Linked DNA regions of Homo sapiens: regions 2 and 3 are each linked to region 1. Evidence: fine-mapped expression QTL. A gene starts in region 1. Each other region holds a variant in brackets. All regions are shown on one strand. Distances are from middle to middle. Region 1 holds the start of MCM2 (minichromosome maintenance complex component 2). Region 2 overlaps PODXL2 (podocalyxin like 2). Region 3 overlaps MGLL (monoglyceride lipase).

Region 1 (2,845 bases):
GGGCTGGAGGTGAGGGCATCAGTACGCCGGGAGCTTCGGCCAGGGCTGGAGGTGAGAGGATCATTGCCTCGCCGACGCTGGGCCGGGCTGGATGCCATGGTGAAGGATTCCGATGATTCCTGCAAGAGAAGGTGCGGTTGTCAGAAACCTAGGAAGCTGGTGAGGCATGATACAGCTTCCTTTTTACCATCAGGGGCCTTCCCTTCTTTCTCTCCACCTGTGACTCTTGTCCTCCAACACACCAAACCCCTTCCAGCCTCCAGATCTTTGCCCTTGCTGTTCTCTCACCTGGAATGCTCTCAGCTGAGCAATCTGAGTCAGTGGCTTCCAAACAAATAGAAGCCAGCTCAAATATCGGGGTCACCCACATCACCGTGCTTTCTCCATGAAAAACCACTGAGGTTATGTCATTTGCCTATTTACCTGTTTACTGTCTATTATCTCCCCTTAAGCATTAGACCTATTTCAGCACACACAGTGCGCAAGGTATTGTGATAGAGATGGCATAGAAGAGCCACCAAAACAAGAGGTCTGGAACTCAGATGTGGAACAGACAGTATACAAGACAAAGGGACAAGAAGGTAATACAAAAGTAAGTGTAGTGTTTGGAACAAGGATCATTGGGAAATTAAAAAAAAAAAAAGTTTAAAGGAGTGTAGTGAAATGGGGGCCTGTCTTTTGTACGCTCAGCGCCACACAGATGGCGCCCAATAAGTATGTGTGGGGTGAATAAAGGACAGAGGCTGAACGGGCCGAGCTCGCCTTAGGGAGCCCAGGGCCCCAGGTCAGTGGTAGGTAGGCGAGTCGCCTCACGCAGGGTGCAGGCGAGAAAGTAGCTGCGCCCCAGAGCCTGGGGCCCAGCCTCACCCAGAGCGCCGCCCTGGGCCGGGGCCAGAGTACGGGAAGCGCGCAGCCTCCGCACCCATGTCCCCGGCGCCCGCCCGCCACGCGCCAGCGCGCTCACCGCCATAGCAGTACCACGATCCTCTCCGCCACTACAGCAACAACCAGGTTTCGCGCGAAAAGTGGTTCACGTGACCCACCAAAGCCCGGGAAGAGCCCTACGGAACGCGACGTCATGACGTCGGCGTCCACTGGCGACCAGAAGGGACACGGAGGGGCGGGCCAGAGGGTCCGGTCCCGCCTACAACGCCCGAGGCGCTCCGCCCAGAGCCCGGAGGTGTGCGGCCCGGCGCTGTGCGCGTGCGCTCGCCTGCGCTGTGGTGGGAGCTGGAGCGGAGGTAGAAGCTGAGGCTCCAGGGGACCCGACGACACTTGCTGGCTGCGTGACCTCGGTCACACCAGGGCCATTTTGCTGACAAGACAACAGAGGCCGGGCGCGGTGGCTCACGCCTGTAATCCCAGCACTTTGGGAAGCCGAGGTGGGCGGATCACAAGCTCAGGAGTTCGAGACCAGCCTGACTAACATGGTGAAACCCAGTCTTTACTAAAAATACAAAAATTAGTTGGGCATGGTGGCACGGGCCTGTAATCCCAGCTACTCGGGAGGCTGAGGCAGAAGAATCGCTTGAACCTGGGAGGTGGAGGTTGCGGTGAGCCGAGATCCCGCCACTGCACTCCAGCCTGGGTGACAGAGTGAGACTCCGTCTCAAAAAAAAAAAAAGACAGCAGAGGTTCAGAGCCTGGTTTTCTGACGCTTCTTACCGTCTTAGGAGCACAATGGTTTAACTTCTCCCAAAGCTCAAAGGCTCAATACTTCAAGCAGCTGGACAACTCTGGGATTTTGTAGGAGGTCACATCTGAGGCTTTAGTAGGAGTTATCTTTGCCCAGGGGAGCGAAGACGCAGGGAGGATGTTACAGATAGAAGGATGCCATGTGCAAAGCTGCAGAGGTCATGGCAGGGCCCGGATGTGCAAGCCCCTCCCTAAGAACTAACCCTAGGAGCTTATGATGCCGGGCAACAGACAAGACTTGAGGGAGAGAAAATCCGGATCAAAAAAGAGCTAGATGTTTTTCTAGAGAGTTTGACTATTCTGTATTCTGAAAGCAATGGAAGGCCATGGAAGCATTTTGAGCAGGGTGAGACGTGAACTAGTGTGGGTTTTAGAATCCCTCTGGCTGCTACCAGGTGGAAGTGGATTGAACGAGGTTGAAGGCAGCAAACGAGGAGGTTGCTGTGGTTCTTGTCTAGTTCCAGGCAGCCTTAGTGAGCAGAGGCAGGGCTGAATCGCAACCCTCTTAGCCAGGCACTTTGTGCAGTGAACAAGCATCTCTGCCTGGGACCCAGGGTAGGGAGGCAGGAGTGATGGAGAGAACTGGAAATACAAGATGTTTAGGAGGTGGAATCTTTTTTTTTTTTTTGAGACAGAGTCACTCTGTCACCCAGGCTGGAGTGCAGTGGTGCAACCTCAGCTCACTGCAACCTCCACCTCCCAAGTTCAAGCGATTCTCGTGCCTTAGCCTCCCGAGTAGCTGGGATTAGAGATGCACGCCATTGTGCCCGGTTAATTTTTGTATTTTTAGTAGAGATGGGATTTCACCATTGTTAGCTAGGCTGGTCTCCAACTCCTGACAAGTGGATCCGCCTGCCTTGGCCTCCCATAGTGCTAGGATTACAGGCGTGAGCCACCACGCCCGGCCAGGAAGTGGGGTCTATAGGTGTTGGTGATTGAGGACAGCAAAAGAGGCATGCAGGATGACACCAGGATCCTGGCTTAGCTAGGTGGATGATAGCTGAGATAGGAGCGCACAGGAAGACCAGCAATTTAAGGGGGAAGAAGATGAGTTTGTTTCTGGCTGTGCTGAATTTGGGCCGAGGGGACATATCCAGGAAGCTGTTGGATATCCATGTATGGGACTCAAGGGCGTGTTTGGACTGAAGCT
Region 2 (2,845 bases), 39 kb before region 1:
TAAAAAACCACGTGAGGTCACAGTTCAAACTCAACCCAGTGCTGGTAATTTGACATATTTGTTTAGAATCTTGGATTCTCTCTCTCTCCTAATTTACCAAAACAAGCAAATAAATGGACAGGAAAACAAATTAAAGGAGGCCTTTTTCCTCTTCTTTCACTCTCATTCTTTAAGGACAGGAATATAGCCCTATTTGCCAGTTTCACAACTTAACCTCTAACTTAATGACCTAACCACACAAATTACTAACTTGCTGTGAGGCTCCTGGAAAGCTGCTCAAGACCTCTGGGTCTCAGTCTCCTCACCAGATAGACAAGGAAGCTAAATGAAATGACCTCTGAATTCTTTTCCAAGACTAACACTTAAGGATCTAGGGAAGAGGGAATTTCACAGTCTTCCTCTTGCTCTACACCAGATGTGTACTGTGACCTGACTTGACTACAGTACATGGCAATTTTTAGTGATGCTTATAATAAAAATAGGGCTAATATTATTGGTGCCATGTGCTTTGCTGAGCAGGCCCTAAGCTTGATACGTGCCAATACTGTGACTGGCCACTGAAAAAAATGAGCATTTCAGACTGTCCTGTGAGTCTCCGTATGAGGGAGTCTGTGCACACTGTGCAGCAGCCAGACAACTCACAGCCAATAATGCCACATCCAGCCACAGGGGTGTATTCTGGGTTGTGTGGATGGGGGATGGGAAGTAGAGACTCCAGGGTAAGAGAGACGCCCTGAGGTCAGAGACAGGAAGATGTTCTATATAACAGGAGAGAAAGCCTGGTACCAGGAAATAGGTTACACTCTGGCTTCTCTGGCTGAGTGACTTCACCACCACCAGCCTTGCTCTCCTCCTCTGTGTAATAAGGACACCAATTCCTACCATGCCTCCAGTGTGAGGGGCACCAAATGAGGTAATTGGTGAGCCATGTGTGAAAGCTGCTCTACAAAGAGCTTTACAAACCAAACTATTCTACAAATATTGTGTTATTATCCTATATAAAAAACAGAGACCTGTGAAGTTCATGGCCCGGGGAAAAAAATATTTAAAAGAGACCATGGTATCTTCAAATACATTAAAACAAAAGGTTGATGTGAATAAGAATATCAGAGTGATTCTACATGGCCTCAAAGCCAACGCCGGGGCTAAGGAGGCATCAGAGCCTTAGCATCTGACCAGGGCTAGTAAACGTCTGTGCCAACCTCTAAGATCCCGTGAAGCTCTGTCTCTCAATAAGATAATTCACAGGCCCAACTCTCAGCTTTAGAAAGTATCATCATAACTAGAGGATGGGGCTGGGTGTGGTGGCTCACACCTGTAAATCCCAGCACT[T/G]TGGGAGGCCGAGGCGGGCGGATCACTTGAGGTCAAGAGGTCGAGACAGGCCTGGCCAATGTGGCAAAACTAGTCTCTCCTAAAACACAAAAACTAGCTGGGCATGGTGGCACACGCATGTAGTCTCCAGCTACTTGGTAGGCTAAGGCAGGAGAATTGCTTGAACCCGGGAGGCAGAGATTGCAGTGAACCAAGATGGTGCCATTGCACTCCAGCCTGGGCGACAGAGTGAGACTCTGTCTCAAAAAAATAAAAATAAAAAAATACCTAAAGGGTGGGCAAGCTGTGACCCTGGGCAGGTGGGAGCCAATGGCACTGCTGTGTTGCCAGTGCTCCTGAGGACTGCTCACAGGGGATTGCCTTCTGCCAAGTCCAAACCAGGAAGCTATCACACCCCATCCGGAATGTCTTCTGCTGTCCTAGGCACCATGTCCACGGACAAAGATTCTGCTTCCAGGCAGGGCCTGGCTCCACGAAGCTGAAGTCATGTTCCCAGAGCCTGTGTCTGAATCCCTGACTCAAAGAGAGAAACAGCCATCTCATATTTTGTGGTTTCTTTGAGCCAAAGGTATTTAAAAGGCAGAGAAAGCCAAGACAATCAATTTGGGGTCCACTCCCCTTGAAGTTCCCCTTTGTTCCTGGGAGAGGATGAATTAAGGACTTGTACTCTCTCTAGCTCAAGACTTTCCCATGACCTCTTCCACTCTAATTCCCCTTCACATCACGGGGGGACCCTAAGCTACTCTTGGATTTTTTCCTAGCCCGAATATTATAGAAGAAAGCAGTATCTATCCCCTACTAGGTAGATGGGAAAGAAACAGAGTGCCCTGTCCTACCCCAAAACAGTACCTTCTTAAGGTTCTTCCTGAGAGGGGTTATCCAATGACTCCCAATTAATAACACACATCTTTGCAATGAGACTTTGTAGCTCCTCCCATCAAGAGATGAAATCTAATTCTCCACTCCTTGAATCTGAGCTACCTTTGTGAGTTGCTACACAAGACAATGCAGAAGTGATGATGTGCCATTTCCAAGGCTAGGCATCAAGATACCTTGCACGCTTCCATTCTCTCAGGATTCTGCTCAAGGCTAGCCTGCAGGAAAACAGGAGCCCATGCAGAAGAGAGCCAGATCAGCTCAGTGTCCTAGCTGAAGTCCCAAAGTGAGAGAGCCAGACAAGACCAGCAAAGGTGATAAACAGCTGATGACAAACTTGAAGGAGTTCAGCTGAGACCAGAACCACCCAGCTGACTGCAGCCTAAATTGCCAAACTACAGAATCATGAGCTAAATAAATGGCTACCGTTTTAATCCAGTGCTTTCAAACTTGAACCAGCATGGAATCACCATGAGGGCTTGTTAAAACAGAGACTGTTAAGCCCACCCTAGAGTTCTGAATCCAGCTGGTCTGTGACGGGGCCCAACAATTTGCATTTCTAGCAAGTTCCCAGGTGATGCTTCTGTCCAGGGATCAGATCTTAAGAACTGAGAATCTGAAACCACTAAATTTTGGG
Region 3 (2,500 bases), 160 kb before region 1:
AATCCTACGGCAGCAGAGTAAGGCAGGCAACGTCCCTATGGAGGAAACAAGCTCAGAGATGCTGCCTGATTTATTCAAGCTCACAGTCATTAGGGGGCAAAGTCGGACTGAAATTCTTACACACTTGCACCTTGCTACAGTTTTAACTTTTGGGAAAATGCTTTGGGGTGCAGAGCCGCAGGTTCCATTGGACCAGCGCCCCCCAATCAGTGCTGTGCCTCTGAGCAGCTTGGCGTGGGGCACAGCCCCCAGGCGAGTGGCCCTGGGGTTTCTGCATCATCTGACAGAAGTGCCGCAGCGGCTCCAGGAATAGCTTGCGACGCGCAGTCTGTCAGGGGTGCCGTGCCAGCTCCTCACCTCGCCTCCTGCCAAGGCTCTGCTAGAAGATGCTCTGACTCCCAGAGGTGGCGCCTGAGCCTGGATGAGGGACAGAGCCAGCATCGGGGCTGACTGCAGGGGGAGAACAAGGTCCTTTCACCTTCATTCCTCAGCACCCACGTGCCCTGTGTGGCATGGTGTGAGCCCAGAGGGGTTGGTCCCCTGTTGACAAGTGGAGCTTAGCCCAGAGAGTTCTGTTATGTGAACCTGCTGGGTGGAGGCAGAGTGGCCTGGCCTACTCTTTATACCTGTGTGTCCAGGACAGTCACTTGACCTCTCTGAGCCTCAGATTTCCCATCTGTATGTTAGGCCTGAGGCTTCCTATGGAAACGTTAGCTCATAGGACCCCACACAAACTCAATGTCCCATAAATGGATGCTTCCACCCCTGTGTGGCTCTGCCCTTCCCTCCCGTCATCTTTCCTTTGCTTTTCTTTGAAAGCTGTGTGCACATCCAGCGCTCTCCCTGCTACACCACTGGCTTCCTTTCTCCAACGCAGAAAACCAAGCCGTCTAAGCAGGGCCTGCCCGCAAAGACAGTCAATGTGAGAGGCAGGGGCCAGCTGCCTCCTCCTCAGAGTCGTGGAGAAGTGCTGGATCATTCAGACCCCATAATCATAATTATTTCTCTCCTCAGTTATTGTACAGACGCCACCAGATTGGAAAAATCACTTAAAGGTTTTATTCAGTGGAAGCTTTCTTACC[A/G]AAAAAGGAGAATCATCTGAAGGCCAAAGGGACCGATTCCAAGGACCCTGTGTTGAGTGAGGGAGAAGGAGCTGGGCTGATCTGAGCAGGTAGGAGCTCTGCATCAGGCCACTCCTTCCTCCCAGTCCACACGAGAACCAAGAGTCTCTGAAGTCATCGGGATCTCTGGGCTCAAAGCATCTCTGTAAAGTGGCACTGCTTCTGTGAATTACATTCTCTCTTCCCTTCCTTGGAAAATGACCTCTAAGCAGGGGAAGGTGCAGTGAGACATGAGAACATGCCCACAGCTGAGATTTTTAAATGGCCGCAGGTGAACACAGACATCCCTCTTGAGCACGTGATTCAGAAGAGAGGCACACCCACCTCCAGTGAGCATCTACTGTGTACCAGGCACGGTGCTGAGAGCCTTGGTCACATCAGGTGTGGTAGGGGACCAAGGGAGGGGTAAGGACAGTCCCGCAGAGGTTGGAGATGTTAGCCAGGGTCACGCATAGCAGAGAGAAGGGTTGAGAGCCGCCTGACTCTGTGTCTCAGTTGCTGGGGTCACAGAATAGGAGAGCTGGTTTATAATAATGGACGCTGTGAGAAATAGCTGCCAGGGCCGGGCGCAGTGGCTCACGCCTGTAATCCCAGCACTTTGGGAGACCGAGGCAGGTTGATCACTTGAGGTCAGGAGTTCAAGACCAGCCTGGCCAACATGGCGAAACCTCATCTCTACTAAATACAAAAATTAGCCAGGCTTGGTGGCATGTACCTGTAATCCCAGCTAGCTACTCAGGACGCTGAGGCAGGAGAATCACTTGAACCTGGGAGGCAGAGGTTGCAGTGAGCCTAGATCACACCACTGCACTCCAGCCTGGGCAACAGAGCAAGACTCTGTCTCAAAAAAAAAAAAAAAGAAAAGAAAAGAAAAAAAAAAGAAAAAGAAAGAAATAGGTGCCAGGAGCCCCCAGAATATCCTTTCCTGTGAGGGTCATGTTTACAACTTACAGCCAGTGCACTTTTGCACATTTTCAAGAATGATATTTTTCTCCCTAGCAATTGCTTGTCATGATATGAAAAATCGACCCATTATCCCATTGTTTTTTATAACACATATCTGATTTTTAAAGACCCTTTTAAAGGGGAAGACAGAAAAGAAAATTACAGGTGACTTCCCCCATTCTCCTCGCTCGGTACAGCCGAATTGTTAGGAAAGGAGACTGGCACTTTGTCAGCACTAACAACGGAACACACCATTTAATTATACAAGGCTCAGGGGCTGCTCTAAGAGGGCCAAGCTGACCTGGGCTTCTGTCTAGCTTGAAAAACTTCTAGCTATTGACTTTTTGCAAGCTCCTTCACATCTCCAAGCCTCATTCGTGTATTTATTCATTCGTTCAGTCTATAATGTATTAGCTTGATGCCCAGTTACCAAC

Evidence for each region. PIP is the estimated chance that this variant, and not a neighbour inherited with it, causes the effect.
Region 2: its variant is fine-mapped to the expression of MCM2 in aorta (GTEx, PIP above 0.99). The same link has a PIP of 0.9 or more in skeletal muscle and tibial artery.
Region 3: its variant is fine-mapped to the expression of MCM2 in subcutaneous fat (GTEx, PIP 0.94).

What each region holds. Positions count from the first base shown.
Region 1 is chr3:127,596,592-127,599,436 of GRCh38, reverse strand. It overlaps MCM2 (minichromosome maintenance complex component 2), which reads right to left and starts at 1,026. Exons shown (of 16, transcript NM_004526.4): 1 at 965-1,026; 2 at 1-119. The coding sequence starts at 970. It also overlaps a transcript of TPRA1 not described here. RefSeq lists a silencer at 728-887 and enhancers at 918-1,037, 391-1,348.
Region 2 is chr3:127,635,572-127,638,416 of GRCh38, reverse strand. All of the region lies in intron 1 of PODXL2 (podocalyxin like 2), which reads right to left. Among named protein-coding and RNA genes, the nearest start is that of PODXL2, 7.8 kb to the right of the region's middle. The variant T/G (reference allele first, on the strand shown) is at 1,333.
Region 3 is chr3:127,758,406-127,760,905 of GRCh38, reverse strand. All of the region lies in intron 3 of MGLL (monoglyceride lipase), which reads left to right. Among named protein-coding and RNA genes, the nearest start is that of MGLL, 63 kb to the left of the region's middle. The variant A/G (reference allele first, on the strand shown) is at 1,083.